Regions from separate parts of the Homo sapiens genome. Here region 2 is linked to region 1. A link means that fine-mapping ties the variant in region 1 to the expression of a gene that starts in the linked region. Tissue or cell type: sigmoid colon. Region 1 holds a variant in brackets; the other region holds the start of a gene. All regions are shown on one strand. Distances are between the middles of the regions.

Region 1 (8,105 bases):
TGCAGTCAATTACAAAGCAATTACCTGAACAGTGACTGCAAACCGGTGCCACATGGCAATTATAATGCTGCCTCTCCAAGAAGGGCTTGCCCTTGGTTGCTCTTTCTGACATCCACGTGGCACCCTGGGCCCACCCTTAGCATCCTGCCACCATTACACTCAGCAGTGCACAGCCAGAGCCAAGCTGCTTCTGCAGAAACCTCTTCTTAAGGTCATAGACTTTTACTAACCCCAGGGATGTCATACTTGGGACAGGAGGGTCTTACCCTATAAGCAGGGAGCTTGGGAAGCATTCTAGCACTTCCTCAAATGAGCCAAGGGAAAGCTGACTAGATGAAATCTTCAGTGTTCCTTCCCTGGTGGGCGCAATTCAGAAAACCAGAGGGCTTCTCGCTGACTGGCGAGCCAGATGGGGCAAAGGAAATGAGTGTGAGGCCAGGTGCCTTGGTGCCTCAGTGCCCAGGTGGGCAAAGGGCACAGACACACATCAGGCTGGGAAGACTGGTTACTGGGTTTTGGTTTTTGGTTTTTGCAAAGCCAGCATCTCTGACATTTGCAAGGATAAAGGCATCCAAAGAGGGCTGAGAGGTCTGTCTGGATGCTGCAAGTTCTACCAGCAACGAGCAGGCTCCTTCCCTGGTGCAATTCACTCCCTCCCGCTCTGGACCTGGCTGGCATAGAGGCCACTCCCTCTTCCTGCTCTCCCTTCCAACCCCAGGAGAGGAGGGGACTCTGGATACTAAGGGTCTCTCTTGGCAAGTTCTTTTTTTTTGGTCTAGAGGGACCACCAGCAGTAACCTGAGGCTGTAGCTCAGGCTTCTTCTCATTCCAGGGAACAGACACAGGGAAGCCAACTCTCAAAGTCCTCCTCTTGCCTTGATTCCAGGCATTTTAGCATTCAGGCTGAAAACGTCCCAAAGCCCCACACTGTGGGCTTTGGAAGTACCAAAAACAGATGCCGAAGAGAGAGCTTGGCCCTCGGCACGGTGCCGCATGGGGTCGGAGGCCAGGAGGTTATCTCTGCAGAAACCTGACCATTTTGTTTATGGTGTTCTGACAATGCTCAGAGCCATGCAGAGCAGCTGCTCCCCGTACCGAGCTGCTTGACATTCTGCCGAGAAGGTGGCTGCGGCTCTGCAAGGATGACTTATGACATTGACAGCTTTTGGGGCTGCCGGTCCCCTGGCTTCCCTGCTCCAAGACCCGGGCCATCTGCCTCTTACTTAAGCCTGAGGCCCAGAATGTTAGCACAGGGAGAAGAAACTCACCAGAAAAGAAAAATAAGGAGAAGAGAAACAGAACTGGGACCACCTATTTTAACCAATAAGTCATCCCTCCCATGTGAATCTGCCTCCCACCCCAGTGGATGTGCCTGGCAGAAGCGTGGGCAATGTTTTTACAATAATCAGAGGATGACACTGCCCTGCTTACAAGCTTTCATGGGCCCCATCGTTCTCAGGTTACATTCCAAACACTTTCACATAGGTGCACTGCGGGGTTCAGTGCCCACCTGCTCACCAGCCCCCTCAGGCTCTGCGCTCTAAGTACCTGAACTGCCCACCCTTCATTTCCTCCAGCACACACTTCCTCAGGCCCCCAGGGCCTTTGCATATCCCTTTCCCCCACCAAATGCCTTCCCCTTCTCCTCATGGCCCTCCCCAGCCCCATTAACTGGCAACCTCAGTGAAACATCACTTCTTCAGAGCTTCTCTCTCTGATCCCCAGATTAGATCATATCCTCCTGCTCTCAGATCTTAGAGTTCCTGCACTTTTCCTCTATGGCAGTAATCACAGTTTTTTCATACAATTGGATGATTAAATTGTATCTCCTCTACCGGACTGGAAGCTACGTGAGGGCCAAGACCTTGTCAACGCAGCTCTCCACTATTCCCCTTCCTGGCCTGTGGAAGGTGCTCAATAAATATTTCTAGAGTAAATGAACCCCAGAATCAGGATGATTAGAAAACGAAGACTGACAAGTTCAAGTCAAAAACTCAGGATTGGACTTAGAGAAAGAGCTGGACCCTGGCATTTGATCCACGGATCTGTGACGAGCTAAGTGACCTTGGAAATTATTTAAACTTTCTGAGCCTCAGTTTCTCATCGATGAAACATTGCAGAGTTGTTGTAAAATTCAGATAATGCCTGAAAAGCACTTATTGTAGTAAAGGGTAGCTTCCATTTTTTTATTGTTGTAGTTAATAAATGGCAGAATGGCAAGTTGGAAAACTTACTACAGAACTCTGAGAAGACACTAGAGTGAGCTGTACAGTTCCCCTCCATGAGCTAGATGAATGCTTTACACACATCCCCATGGTGATGTGGTACAAATGACTTTTGCTGAACAAAAGGTTTCACCCATCACTAAGTCAATAACACTAGGCACCAGGTGTGGCCCCCACCCTGCGCCAAGTCCTGTGGGGTGGGGCATGTTTGTTAATCAGCAGGACTTCTCAAACATCCCTAGAGCAGTTGTAAATTAACACAGCCTTTCTGAAGGATGATGTAGCCATATGGAGCTAATTTTTAGGCAGTTATATCGTTTAACCCAGCACTACTATTTCATTTCTAGGAATATTCTCCAGAAAACAATTGTTCAGGTATGAAAAGCCTGGTACCTAGTAACTCCTCAAATAAATATTTGTTGAGGGCTTACTATAAATAAAGATACAAGGATCTTTCTCACGGTGTGATTTCTAATGGCAAATAGTAGTAATAGTCTCAATGTCTAATGTCAGTGAACAGGTTAAGTATATGATATCACACAGAGTCATTTAAAAATATGTAAATCACTTAACATGGAGTCAAGTAAAAAAATACAAAATAGCATATATGATATAACCCCTTATTTTAGTAAAAAAAAAAAGTGTGTGTATGTGTGTGTATGTGAAAAGCATTCAGAAAGATGGACATCATAGGCCATTATATCAATGTCTTCCTTGTCTTTATCTACTATCTGAAGTCTTCTACAATAAATATAAATTCATTTTCAAACCATAAAGAAGAAAAAACTGCTTTTATTCTGAGAAGGGGGAGATAGAGAGGAGATGATATATAGTCTGCCATGGAGGGCCTTCTTGGGAAACTCAGTTTATCTGTAAGTTAATTCAAAAATGAGAATGAGAATGAGAATGAGTCTCTCTCTCTTACACACACACACACACACACACACACACACACACACCATTGCTTGGAAAGATTAATTTAGTTCTCTAGTTTGGCTCCTCAGAAAGTTCAGAAACTGAACCCTGAAATCTACCTCTTTGGAATATCAACTCAGTGATACCAGTATCACATCATCTTGATTACTGTAGCTTTAGATTAAGTATTGAAATTAAGTAGGGCAATTCTTTTAACTTTACTTTGATTTTTATAAATCCTTTTAGCTATTCTTGGTCATTCTTATGCTATATGTAAATTTTAAAAATAGCTTGCCAGTTTCTACAAAAAAGTCTGATGAGATTTTGACAGGGATAGCATTGAAGCTATAGATCAACTTGGAGAGAACTGCCATCTTAACAACACTGAGTCTTCCAATCCATGAACATGGTATATCACTCCATTTATTTAAGTCTTCTTTAATTTCTGTCAGCAATGTGTTATAGTTTTAAGGGTACAGGTCTTACATATTTTGTTAATTTGATCCTAAAATATTTCAAGGAATATTTTATGTTATTTTACACTGTATTTTTCTTTATCTTTGTTTTCCAATTGTTCATTGCAAATATGTGAAAATATACTTCAAAAAAATATTGGCCTTGTTCCTTTGGCCTTCCTAAATTCATCTACTAGTTCCAGTAATTTTTATTAGATTCTTTAACACTTTCTATGCACATGATCATGTTGTCTGCAAATAAAAAGAATTTCACTCCTTTCTTTTCCATCTGTATGCCTTTTATTTCTTTTCCTGGCCTTATTCAACTTCCTAGGACCTCCGGTAGAATATTGAATAGAAGCAGTGAAAGTGGACACATTGATGATTTCCCAGTCTTAGAAGGAAGTACAAGAATATGCTATTAAATATGATCAGGTGCCTGGGCACGGTGACTCACACCTGTAATCCCAGCACTTTGGGAGGCCGAGGCAAGCGGATCACGAGGTCAGGAGATTGAGACCATCCTGGCTAACATGGTGAAATCCTTCCTCTACTAAAAATACAAAAATTAGCCAGGCATGGTGGCGGGCGCCTGTAGTCACAGCTACTCAAGAGGCTAGAGGCAGGAGAATTGCTTGAACCCAGGAGGCGGAGGTTGCAGTGAGGCGACGTCACACCATTGCACTCCAGCCTGGGTGACAGAGCAAGATTCTGTCTCAAAAAGAAAAAAAAAAAAAAAAAATATATATATATATATATATATATATGATCAGGTGTAGGCTTTCTGTAGATTTCCTTTATTGGATTGAGGAAATTCTCTCCTATATCTAGTTTGCTGAAAGGTTTTTTTTTTTAATCATGAATGGGTATGGAATTATATCTTTTTCTTCATCTGTTGAGATGATTATATGGTCAATATTCTTTGTTCTGTTAATACAATTAATTACATTGATTAGCACATGTTAAACCAACTTTGCACACCTTCAATCAACATAATTAATCGTGGTGTATTATCCTTTTTACTTATAGCTGCATTCCATTTGCTAATATCTTGTTATGGATTTTTACATCTATGTTCATGAGAGATATTGGTCTGTAGTTTTCTTGTAACGTCTTTACCTGGTTTTGGTATCAGATATCCTGGTGTCATAAAATGACCTGACAAGTGTTCTATCATCCTATATTTTCTGAAAATGTTTGGTAAGCCTAACATTATTCTTGCCTTAAATTTTTTTAAATCAAATTCACCATGAAGGAGGTTTCTTTTTGGGGAAAGATTTTAAATT[A/G]CAAACTTAATTTAATAAATATAGAGCTACTCAGATTTTCCATTTTGTGTCAGTTTTAAGAATTTTTATCTTTTAAGAAATTTGTCCATTTCATTGAAGTTGCCAAATTTATTTCCATAAAATTTTCATGATATCCTTTTCTGACACCTCTTAGGTTACCTTTAATGTGTATAGCATCTGTAGTGATGCATCCTTTTTACTCATATTAATAATTTGTATATTTCTCTGTTTCTTAATCAAGCTAGCTATAATTTTTCAACTTATTGATCTTTGAAGAGAGATAGCTTTTTGTTTTATTAATGTTTTCTATTGTTTGTCTACTTACTATTTCATTTATTTTATTCTTATTTTAATATTACCTTTTTCCTTACTTATTTTGGTTTTAATTGGTTCTTCTTTCTCTAGCTTCTACATGTAAAAGTTTAGGTCACATTTTAAACCTTTGTTAATATCAATTACATTTACTGATTTTAATGTAAATATAGTGTAAGCACTTCAAACTATAAATTTCCTTCTAATATCTGCTTTCCCTGTACTCCATACATTTTCTATGTGGGGTTTTAATTTTCATTCATTTCAAAATATTTTCTTTCTTCTTTTTTTTTTTTTTTTTGAGATGGAATCTCACTCTGTCTCCCTGCCCAGGCAGGAGTGCAGTGTTGCGATCTCGGCTCACTGCAACCTCCGCCTCCTGGGTTCGAGCAATTCTCCTGTCTCAGCCTCACAAGTAGCTGGGATTACAGGCACCCACCACCATGCCCAGCTAATCTTTGTATTCTTAGTAGAGATGGGGTTTCACCATGTTGGCCAGGCTGGTCTCGAACTCCTGACCTCAAGTGATTTGCCCGCTTTGGCCTCCCAAAGTGCTGAGATTACATCCATGAGCCACCACGCTCAGCCAATATTTTCTAGTTTCCTTTATAATATTTCTTCTTTTACCTTAAGCAGTATGTTGTGTAATTTCCACATATTTGGGAATTTTTCAGATATTTATTCTGCTATTGAATCCTAAATTAATTCAGTTACTGTCAGAGAAGCAGTAATCTTTTTAAATGTAATGAGATTTGTTTTATGACACAGTATATAGTTTATATTAATAAATGTTCTATGTGTAAGAAAAGAATGTATATTCTGCCACTGTTGGGTATTTATTTCAAAAATGTCAATTAGATCGAGTTGTTTGATAGTGTTATCCAAGTTTTCAATGTCCTTACTGATTTCCTGTCTCCTATGCATCACTGAGAAAAGAATCTCCCACTACAATTGTGAAATTTATCCATTCTTCCTTTCAATTCTGTCACTTTGGCATGTATTTTGAAGCTGTGTAATTAGGTGCATAGACAGGACGGTCATGTTTTCCTAACGGACTGACCCTCTTATCATTATAAAATATCTCTCTTTATCTTGAGTAATAGTTCTTGTCCTGAAGTCTACTCTGCTTGATCATATATTCACTTTAGTTTTCTTATGGTTAGTATTTGCACACTCTATTTTTTCCCATCTTTTTACTTCTAACCCATTTGTGCCTTTATTATTAAAGTGTTTCTTGTAGAAAGCATGTCATTGAGTATTATGGTTTTTTTGTCCAGTCTGATACTCTCTAGCTTTTAATTGGAATGCTTAAGCCATTTACAGTTGATGCAATTATGTATATGGCTGGGTTTATCTCTACCATCTAACACTGTTTTCTACTTGTCCTGTTTCATATTCCTCTTTCCTGACTTCATTAATTTGAATATTTTTGAGTCTTTCATTTTATATCCACTATTGGCTTATTCCTATATCTCTTCATTTTTAGTAGTTTGCTCTAGGATTTGCAATATATATCTTCAATCATAGTATTCTACCTTCAACAAATATTAGAGCACTTCACCAAAAATGTAAGAATCTTTCAACAATATACTTCCACTTCCCTCTGCTTTCCTTTGTATCATTGTTGTCACACACTTTGCTTCTATATAATGTTATTACTTATGTTTTAGACAATCAATTATCTTATTTTAAACATATTTTTGAGCTATAATTTATACACCATAAACGTCACTTCTTTGAAGTGTACTTCAATGCTTTTAGTATTTTACAGCCTTGTGAAACTGTCACCATAAGCTAATTTTGGAGCATTTTCATCACCCCAAAAAGAAACCTAATACTCATTAGCAGTCACCCCTCATCCCTACCTGACACACACACCTCCAGCCTTAGGCAATTATTAATCTGCTTTCTGTCTCTATAGGTTGCCCTATTCTGGGCATTTCATATAAAGGGTATCACATAATATATGGTCTTTTGTGACTGGCCTCTTTCACTTAGAATAACGTTTAGAAGTTCATCCACGTTGTGGCATGTTATCAGTGCCTCATTCCTTTTTATTGCCAAGTAATATTTCATTGTATGGATAGACTACATTTTGTTTATTAGTCGGTGGACATTTGAGTTGTTTTGACTTGTTGCTATGATTAATAATGGTATAAGTTTTTCTGTGAATATGCTTTTATTTCTCTTGGGTACATATCTATGAGTGAAATTGCTGGGTCTTCTGGTAACTCAATGTTTAACATTCTGAGGAACTGCCAGAATGTTTTCCACAGCAGCACCAGCATTTTGGATCACCATCAGCAGTGTGTGAGGGTTCCAATTTCTCCACGTGTGTGAACACTTACTATTATCTCTCTTTTTTTGTTATAGCCATCCTAGTGGGTAAGAAGTGGTATCTTGTTGTGGTTTTCACTTCTCTGATGATTAATGATGCTGTTAAATATATTTTCGTGTGTTAATTGGCTATTCATATATCTTCTTTGGGGAAATATCTATTCAAATTATGTGTCCATTTCTATTATTTTTCTTTTAATTGTTAAGTTCTAAGAATTCCTCAGAATGTTAAACATTGAAATCATTTCTCAACCTAAAGTCACTAGATTTATTCCCATGTTATCTTCTAAGACTTTTATAGTTTCAGCTCTTAACATTTAGGTCTATAATCTACTTTGAATTATTTTTTCTGTATGGTATGAGGCAGGGGTCCAATTTCTTTTCTTTTCTTTTCTTTTTTTTTTTTTTTTTTTTTTTTGCATGTGTTTATCCAGTTGCCCCAGAACCTTTCTGAAAAGACTATTCTATCATGATTAAATTGTCTTGGTCCTTTGTTGAAAATCAATTGACCATAAATGCTAAGACTTACTCCTGGACTCTCAATTTTATTCCATTGATTTATACGTCTATTCTTA
Region 2 (8,105 bases), 490 kb before region 1:
AATATTACTCAACCGTAAAAAGGAACACGGTACAACACGTTACAACTTGAATGAATGCAAAAAACTTTGTGCTAAGTGAAAGAAGGCAGATGCAAAAGGCCACACATTGTATGATTCCTTTTATATGACATACCCAGAACAGGCAAATCCACAGAAAGAGAGAGCTGATTAGAGGTAACCAGAGAATGGGAGGAAGGGGAAATAGTGAATGATTACTAAATGGGCATGAGGTGTTCTGGGGTGATGAAAAAGTTCTGAAAATGGAAAGAGGTAATGGTTGCAAAATATTATCAATATACTAAATAACACTCAATTATATACAGTTTAAAATGTTTAGTTGTATGTTATGGTAATTTTGCCTCAATAAAAAAACAACTCTCCTTAAAATTCCTTTGGCTAAAAAAAAAAATCCAATTTGATTTTGTAAGTAAACAGAATTTCCAGGCAGGACAGAATTACAATGGGTTTCTTACTGTGAAAATCTAAAATTGTATAAGTTCATGAACAAAACCATCAGATCAAAACATTACTATATTATTTAACAACAGTATCTGACATAACTTTAACTGTTTTTTCAGGGCAGCTAAATGCAGAAAGACCGAAATATATTTGTCGGACAGTGACGGCTTTTAGGAATGTGGAAACACTAGTCTGAATTTCTCAATCTTCTGCTGTGGTTCTCCACATACGGCGCAGAACAAAAGATGGAGGTCCTCTAGCTCAAGAATTCTACAAACAGAGATTTGCTGAGCTAATGGAGTTTGACAGTATCTACTTTGTGTGTGTCAATGGACAACCATTAGAGATGAATTCTACAGAGAGGCTTGCTCAGGCTGGACAATTAGTAAGAAGACAAAGCATTTTGATAAAAAAATCTGATCAGAAGAACTGGTCTTGGCTTGAGCAATCTAAAGACCTAATCCTTAACATTGTATTATCCGATTTTATAAAGTGCTTCTTGGGGAATGCACTCAGGGAGTGATGTTCATGTTTTAGGCATATGATTTTTTATTTCTCCTGAGCTAAATGTTATGAGCAGGTTTCTATCACAGGAAAACAAGCGTGAAACCTAGAAAGTCTGACTTTTGCTTAGATTAGATCTTCCAGCACAGCAGGGAGCAAAGTTTCGTTACAATTATGATACAGTCAGAATTTGCTTTACATTCACACTTTGATGATACTTTTTCTAAACAGATTTCCAGAGTACTCATATTTGTTTAAAATTCATATTTCCAACATTTCAGAGCAATACCTCATCTACTTGATTTTGTGTCTGCTGAAGTCTTCGATTACTGCCAGTGGCAGCAGTTGGACCTGTAGACCTGGAACATGTAAAGGCATGAGCATGAGTACATTACGATTCCAAATACATTTTCTTAAGTATAAAGATGTTACTCCGGGACTCTCACTGTTAACAATCTCTTACATTAGAACTAAAACAGAAAAAGAAATTCTTCCTGAAGCAATGAACGAAAGTTTTAATTGCATTTCTTCTAATTTCTCTATAATTTCCAAGACTGTCCCACCTACTAAAGGGACAAATGTTAAGCTTTAATAGGACCTACTTTGTATCCCTGAAGTATCTGATCCCACGATAGGTAAGCTCTACTGTCCTTTTTTGAAACTTGTTCTAAGGCACACATCTGCTTGAATGTACTCAGTACTTTCCTGATCTTTTCATTGTGGAAGGAACTGTTTTCATAGTTACAAACAGTTACAGAATGCCCTTTTTCCAATATGGAAAAATAGATTAATTTACAGAAACAGAGTCAGGAACACTGGGATGCAGGGAGTGGGTGGTGTGAGTGGAAAGGTGTGTTGAAGAAATGCCTCCTCTTTTAGGAAGGTACTCTTTCTTTTTCCCCCTCTTTTGAGAGACGGAGTTTCGCTCCTGTTGCCCGGGCTGGAGTGCAATGGCGCGATCTCGGCTCACTGTAACCTCCGCTTCCTGGGTCCAAGCAATTCTCTTGCCTCAGTCTCCCAAGCAGCTGGGATTACAGGCATGTGCCACCACGCCCGGCTAATTTTGTATTTTTTAGTAGAGACGGGGTTTCACCATGTTGGTCAAGCTGGTCTCGAACTCCTGACCTCAAGTGATCCGTCCACCTCGGCCTCCCAAAGTGCTGGGATTACAGGCATGAGCCACCGCGCCCGGCCCAGGAAGGTACTCATCTTTTAAAATCTTCATCAAAGGCTTTATTTCTCCCCATGCAGATCTTTCTTAACCACTCTGACTCTGAAGTCATTATTGGCTCCATTACTTGGAAAGTATCACTTTGGTTTTTCAGGTATAAAGTCCCGCCTCCTCGAATAGATCACAGGTTCCTGGGTCTTCTTACTCTCTTCTCTGTATCCTAGATAGCACCTAGCATGTGCCTTGGTATACAACAGTCTGATGGGCTGTTTGAACAGTCACTTTACATCTGTCATGTGTCAATGACCAGGGCTACAACAGATCTCATCACCGTCCTCACGGAGTTTAGTATCTGGTAGATAAGTAAGGACCATGCCGTGGCGCTAGACTCTTTCCATGCTTTTCCTCCTTTAACCCTCATAACTCTCTGAGGGGAATATTACTCCTATTTTACAAATGAGTAAAGTGAGGTTTAGAGAGTCAACACAGCTGGCTGCAGGACAGCTTGTTTTTAGATCAGGTCCTGTGTACCTTGGCTCTAGATCTTAACCACTGTGATCTATTGGCACAGCAGCCTCAGCAGGAACATTCGAGGGGGGTCCCCAGCTCCTGGAAGAAACCCGGGGCTTCCTCCGACGGTGAGCAATGAGCAGAATGGAGGTGGAAGAGGGAGTCCTTGTGATTCTTAACCATTAGCATTCTCTGAGTCTTACCACTGGAAGCAGGGGTTTGCAACGTGCTTTCGCTTAAGAGAGCGAAGGCCCACGGTTAAGTGATCTTTCCAGTGCAGATGCCCCTAGCTAGGCAAGGAGCTCTTCGGCCCACAGGGGCTCAGGACAGGGCCGAGGTCCTTTCTTTCGCAACTTCTGGGGCCCAGCGCAGCACCGGGCCGAGAGCGGGCGCTCCCGAACCAGGGCTGTCGTCCCCATTCCTCTCAGGGACGTCGGGGACTAGAAAGGGAAGGGGCGAGGAGCGGGCTGCGGGCGGGCAGCTCACTTCCTCCGGGAAGCGTCTCGCCGCCCCGCCCTTGCCCCTTCCGCGTCCGCCCGATGGCCGCGGGACCCGCCCGGCCCGTCTGCAGCCCGCGACCCAAGGGCCACCGCCCACCCCCAGGCCTCGGGATCCCCGCGCAGCCCCGGCCTGCGTCCGAGTGGCGGCCGGCGGCAACTGGGCAGTATGGCGGTCCCAGCGCGAGCTGCCGCCTGCGGGGCCCGAAGCCGCCCGCGTCGCGTAGCGTCACTCACATTTTGGCAGCTGCGGCGGCGGCAGCGGCGACGAGAGAGGGTCAGCAGAGAAGCGAAGTTGGGACCGGAGGCCAGGGAGATGGGTGGGACGGCGCGGCGCGGGGCAAAGACGTCACTAGGCGGAGCCGGGGGAGTGGGCGGGGCGAAGAGGGGGCGCGCCGGAAGTGGGCGGGGGCGTCGTGGGTGGGTGCGTCCAGGGCGGGGTCAGAGCGAGACGTCCCCTCCCCGGACGAGGTCACTTGGGAACTTGAGGGCCACAGGGGTCCCAGGGCGGTCCGGGCTCTGAAACGCAGAACGCAGGTCAATACAGCTCCCTGTCCGCACCGCCGTCCGCGCTGGCGCTTGGGGACGTGGTCTGTAAACGTGGTGCATTAGCCACTGGCGAGGGACTGCGTGGATAAGTGAGGGTGGGGGCAATTCATGTTATTCTGGGCTCGGGACCATTTCTAACAGTATTAGAGACAGATGACTGGCTTCTGCTGAGTGTTCCAGAGTAACCTAGTGATCCTGAGGGCACCATGTTTCTCTAAAGTAGTTGAAATAGGAAGTCCATTTCGGGTATTTGTCACATGGTGTTGGGTGAGGTTCCCGCTCATGTTTTCATCGGTGACACAAATATTTGTCACTGCAGATCATATTATAATCTGCTTACGAGAGCCTTGGCATCAAGGCTGTAGTTCCTTTATTTCTGTATTTTCAGGCCCTAGCACAGAATAGGTCCTCAGGTTTTGGTCGAAGGGAGGGAAGCACAAATCTGAACGCAGTGAGTTACCTTGTATATATTTGTTACTGAAATATTCCTACCAACATAGTTACCTACACCAAAAAATAAAACACTAATAGGTCATTGGTGGGTCTCTTAGATGAGAAGTGAAAAATACAGTACTTAAATACTATGCTGTTTTTTCCAACTCTAAATAGAATACTTTGAAAAGGGAAACGTTAGTATATATCGAATAAACGAGTGTCACAAAGGCGGTGGGATTTGAGCTGGGTACTAGTGGAAAAGAACTTTCCAAGTAAGGGTTGGGCAAACACCATGAACAAAGACAGCAGTGAAAATGGACGCAGTGTGCACAGACCACCTAGAGGGTGCAGGTTGGGTACAAGTGAAAAGAAGACTGAATAAAGAGGATAAACAAACAAGAAAAATGTCATTTAATTGTAGTGGGCCCTGGAAACCATTGACTTACGGACGTGGGAGATCCATGATGCAAAATTTCTCTGGCAGTAGTGGCCAGATGGATTAGATGGAAGAGGGAGCACTAGGGAGATAAGGAGAGGCTCTGCAGTGAACGGGAAGGGAGCGGCGATGACACAATACTCAGAAAGGACGACGTTCGTAATCTGCTGGAAAATGCCTTTTAGAAGACTTTAGAGGATTGTAACTGAAAAGGTGAATTAAATTAATGTCTTTATCTTTCAAATAATTGCACTGCCTTACACAAATGATTGACATGTTGAGAGGTGCCTGGAAAGATAGGGGAAAAGCTCTCTGAATGGTGGCTGGAAGACATTTTTTCTTTCATGGACCTAGCTGAAACAATGTAACATTCAATGTCAAAACATTACATCTGGATCAGAAGGAAATCCTTGACATTATTACATATGTTTTGAAACATGTGCCCATCACCTTAGATTTCACTACCCGGTCATATTAAAGCAAAACACACACGTAGTATGGGGAAATTTTCTTCATTTTTAATTTACAGCAGAAAGAATATAAAGCATTCAGAAAACATTTTCCATATTTTAAGGGCAATTCAAAACATTTTGCATGGTTTCCAGCAGCTGAGTTCTTCAACAGATCCATTGATTCAATGATGCTTTACATGCACAATTACAAAAATAAAACTTACAAAAAAAGAAGACATCTAGACTAGTTTTACATGCAAGTCTCAGGGACCCCCCATTGGGCGCCAACTACTGTGTGGAACTGCCATAAGCGACCGTGCAGCCAGAGAGGGGTTCGTATTATTGTCTTTATTTCGTTCACACAGTACAGCTGATTTCGAATGGGTAACAATAGCAATTAAATCTTCAGGAGATAGAATAAGATTAGCTATTAATTTTATAATGAAATCCTACTCCTGGCACTTGGGAATTCAGATTATCCAAGAAAGCTGCGCTTACCTATCATCTTATATTCGAAATTAAGATTCATAACCAAGAAAAAGCGGTCAGAAATGCTTCGTTTCAGTGGAAGTGCATTTTTGCCTCGCCTAGGATTCACAGTTGTACTGGTAGGTTACACTGGTAGGCTTTAAACCTACTTCCTATCCCCTCCATGAGAACCCTCTTAATTCTATGGAAGTCTCTACCATCTGTCATTTTCTAACGTATTCAGCTAATAATGTAACATGTGAAACATTAAAAAAAAAATGTGAGGGTTAAAGCAAATCCACTGAGGTCATTACTCTGGTTAAAACATCAGTTATTTGTACCATAATAAATGGAATAAAGATATCTAAATTCAGTATTAATAGAGGATATTCTGAAAGAGCTGGCTTTCACGTTCTATTCCCATTTATGAATGCAGTTGTGTTTGTAAATTACTCAGTGTCCTCCTATAGGTCAAATTGTGTAAAATAATAGGTATCTGGGGGACTGCAACAGCTGCAACATAACCCACACATTTAAAAACAAAATGGAGTCAGGTCAGTTTACAAATGTACAGGTGGCTACTAGTTGTGGGGCTGTCACTGTTGTCAAAGCTGATCACAAGCAGAAAGACATATACTGTACAGTAATTCGAGGTTGGCAGTGAAAGGAAGTAATTAAAAAACAAGTACAATTATAGAAAAGGCACCAAGAGCACTGACCCCAGTTTTTACCACAATCTTTTTGTATCTACCTTCCTTCCAAAGACACCAGTTTAAAAGCTTATTTGTGAATATTTTTAGGCTTCACAACAAGCCTTGAGTTTTAACTCACAGTTGGCAGCCAGAACCAAGAAAAAACATCTCAGCTTTACACCAACTGATCCTCAGACGTAACCTGGGAATTTTAAACTGGCATCAGCAAATACGAACTTTATTCTCTCAATTTAACATTAGCAGTTTAATTGTTAAAAACATCAGATTTCTTTGGCTCCTCATTATGTGGAAATAGTAATATACCATGCCGTCTCTAAAAGACCAGTCTGCATCTTTTTCATTTTTTTTTTTGTGCAATTTTATTATATTTTCTGATTTCCAGCAGGAGATATGGAAACGTGACATTTTTCTACTTTTCATACTATTTCTTTTGTCAGGTTTTTTTTTTTTTTTTTTATCATTCTAAGTGTTCTTTGTTGGAGTGAGTGGATGGTGTTAAGCTACATACTGATTCATCTTATGATTATCTGTTTTGCAAAAGTAACTTAATTTTCTTAAGCAGTATTAGCATTCACATTACTTGGCACCATTGGCAAAAAAATTTTAAATAAAATAAACTAAACTCCTGGTAGCCAAAATTAAATGTAAACATATCCTTTTTTTTTTAAGTAATGTTACTCTGCCTTTTTTCCTAAGTCTAAATACAGTAGCTCTTTTTTTTTTTTTGCAGTTTAGTCATGCTTTAGCAAAATGTTCTCCTAAAGAACATTTAAAATAAAGTACTCTTATAGTGAAATAAAGTTTTTTTGTTTCATTTTACAGACCATAGCCACTAATGCTTTGCTTTTGTTCATTTCTTTTTTCTTGATTTCATGCACATATCTCTGTTTTAATATATACAATATATACAAACAGTACATCCACATTTTTCTCGCTCATTCAGACAAAACTATACAAATAATTTTATCTTGCCATGTTATTGACCTTTGTGAATAAAATATTTAGCAATTAATATAATCCCTTTCAAATATTTTCTCACTTTTCATTTCTACCTTCTATATATACACAGAAACTGCTCAGTTTGGATGAGATATAGCCAAAAACATGGAATTTACTGGCCAGAACGCAGCACCACACTGATCGTTTAGGTGGCAAATGTCCAGGCAAGGTTCATGATTCCTTAGAATTACTACAGCTTCCAAGGTTACTAAAAAAGGCTACATGCGTTACCAATTCTTAAGTAATTCTCATTGCACATGAAAGTAAGGCAAAAAAATTAAAGTGCTGAACATGAAAAAGGGGACAAGATGATTACTACCCTCGCAGGTTCTTGGAAGGTGGTGGGGACAAGAAAATAGTTTAAACTCTGTGAGCTGCTTCTCATTATTTCCCATGCATTACCCGTTTACCACACACCTGCCCCTCTGCAAATTTCCACAAGACATTAAAAACCTGCAGATTTCAAAAGTTGCATTAAATGTGCTGTAGAGATTAAAACAAACAAACAAACAAACAAAAATAAACAGTGAAGGAAATGAGAACACACGGACCCAATAAAGATTTTTGTATGATCTAAGCCCTCCACTGAGAATCAGTCCCAAAGATTCAGCTTCTTGGAAATAACCGGCAGGTGCAGGAACAGCATTCTTTTTTTGTTGCTAGTATAGCCCCACCTTTTCTTATCTATATTTTTGGTATAAATATTTGTACAGTTCCACACGATGTTTGAATACAGCCCTATATGAGAAGGAAATGGCTTCTTCCTGAGAAGAGGAAGCCTCTTTCAATTCCTCCTGGGTGTCTTGATTTCCCGTGATCCAACAGAAGATTGAGTTCCAAGATGTCTTGCTGATCAAATTAAAAGTTGTCCATGAAAGTGCAAATGCAATGACCAAAACATTCCTGTTAAAA

Evidence for each region. PIP is the estimated chance that this variant, and not a neighbour inherited with it, causes the effect.
Region 2: VAMP3 starts here. The variant in region 1 is fine-mapped to the expression of VAMP3 in sigmoid colon (GTEx, PIP 0.94).

The regions. Positions count from the first base shown.
Region 1 is chr1:7,272,536-7,280,640 of GRCh38, reverse strand. All of the region lies in intron 5 of CAMTA1 (calmodulin binding transcription activator 1), which reads right to left. Among named protein-coding and RNA genes, the nearest start is that of CAMTA1-IT1, 88 kb to the left of the region's middle. The variant A/G (reference allele first, on the strand shown) is at 4,882.
Region 2 is chr1:7,766,659-7,774,763 of GRCh38, reverse strand. It overlaps VAMP3 (vesicle associated membrane protein 3), which reads right to left and starts at 3,468. Exons shown (of 5, transcript NM_004781.4): 1 at 3,379-3,468; 2 at 1,253-1,322. The coding sequence starts at 3,380. It overlaps CAMTA1 (calmodulin binding transcription activator 1), which reads right to left. Exons shown (of 23, transcript NM_015215.4): 23 at 5,058-8,105. RefSeq lists silencers at 3,105-3,334, 3,299-3,541 and enhancers at 3,775-3,824, 3,568-4,264.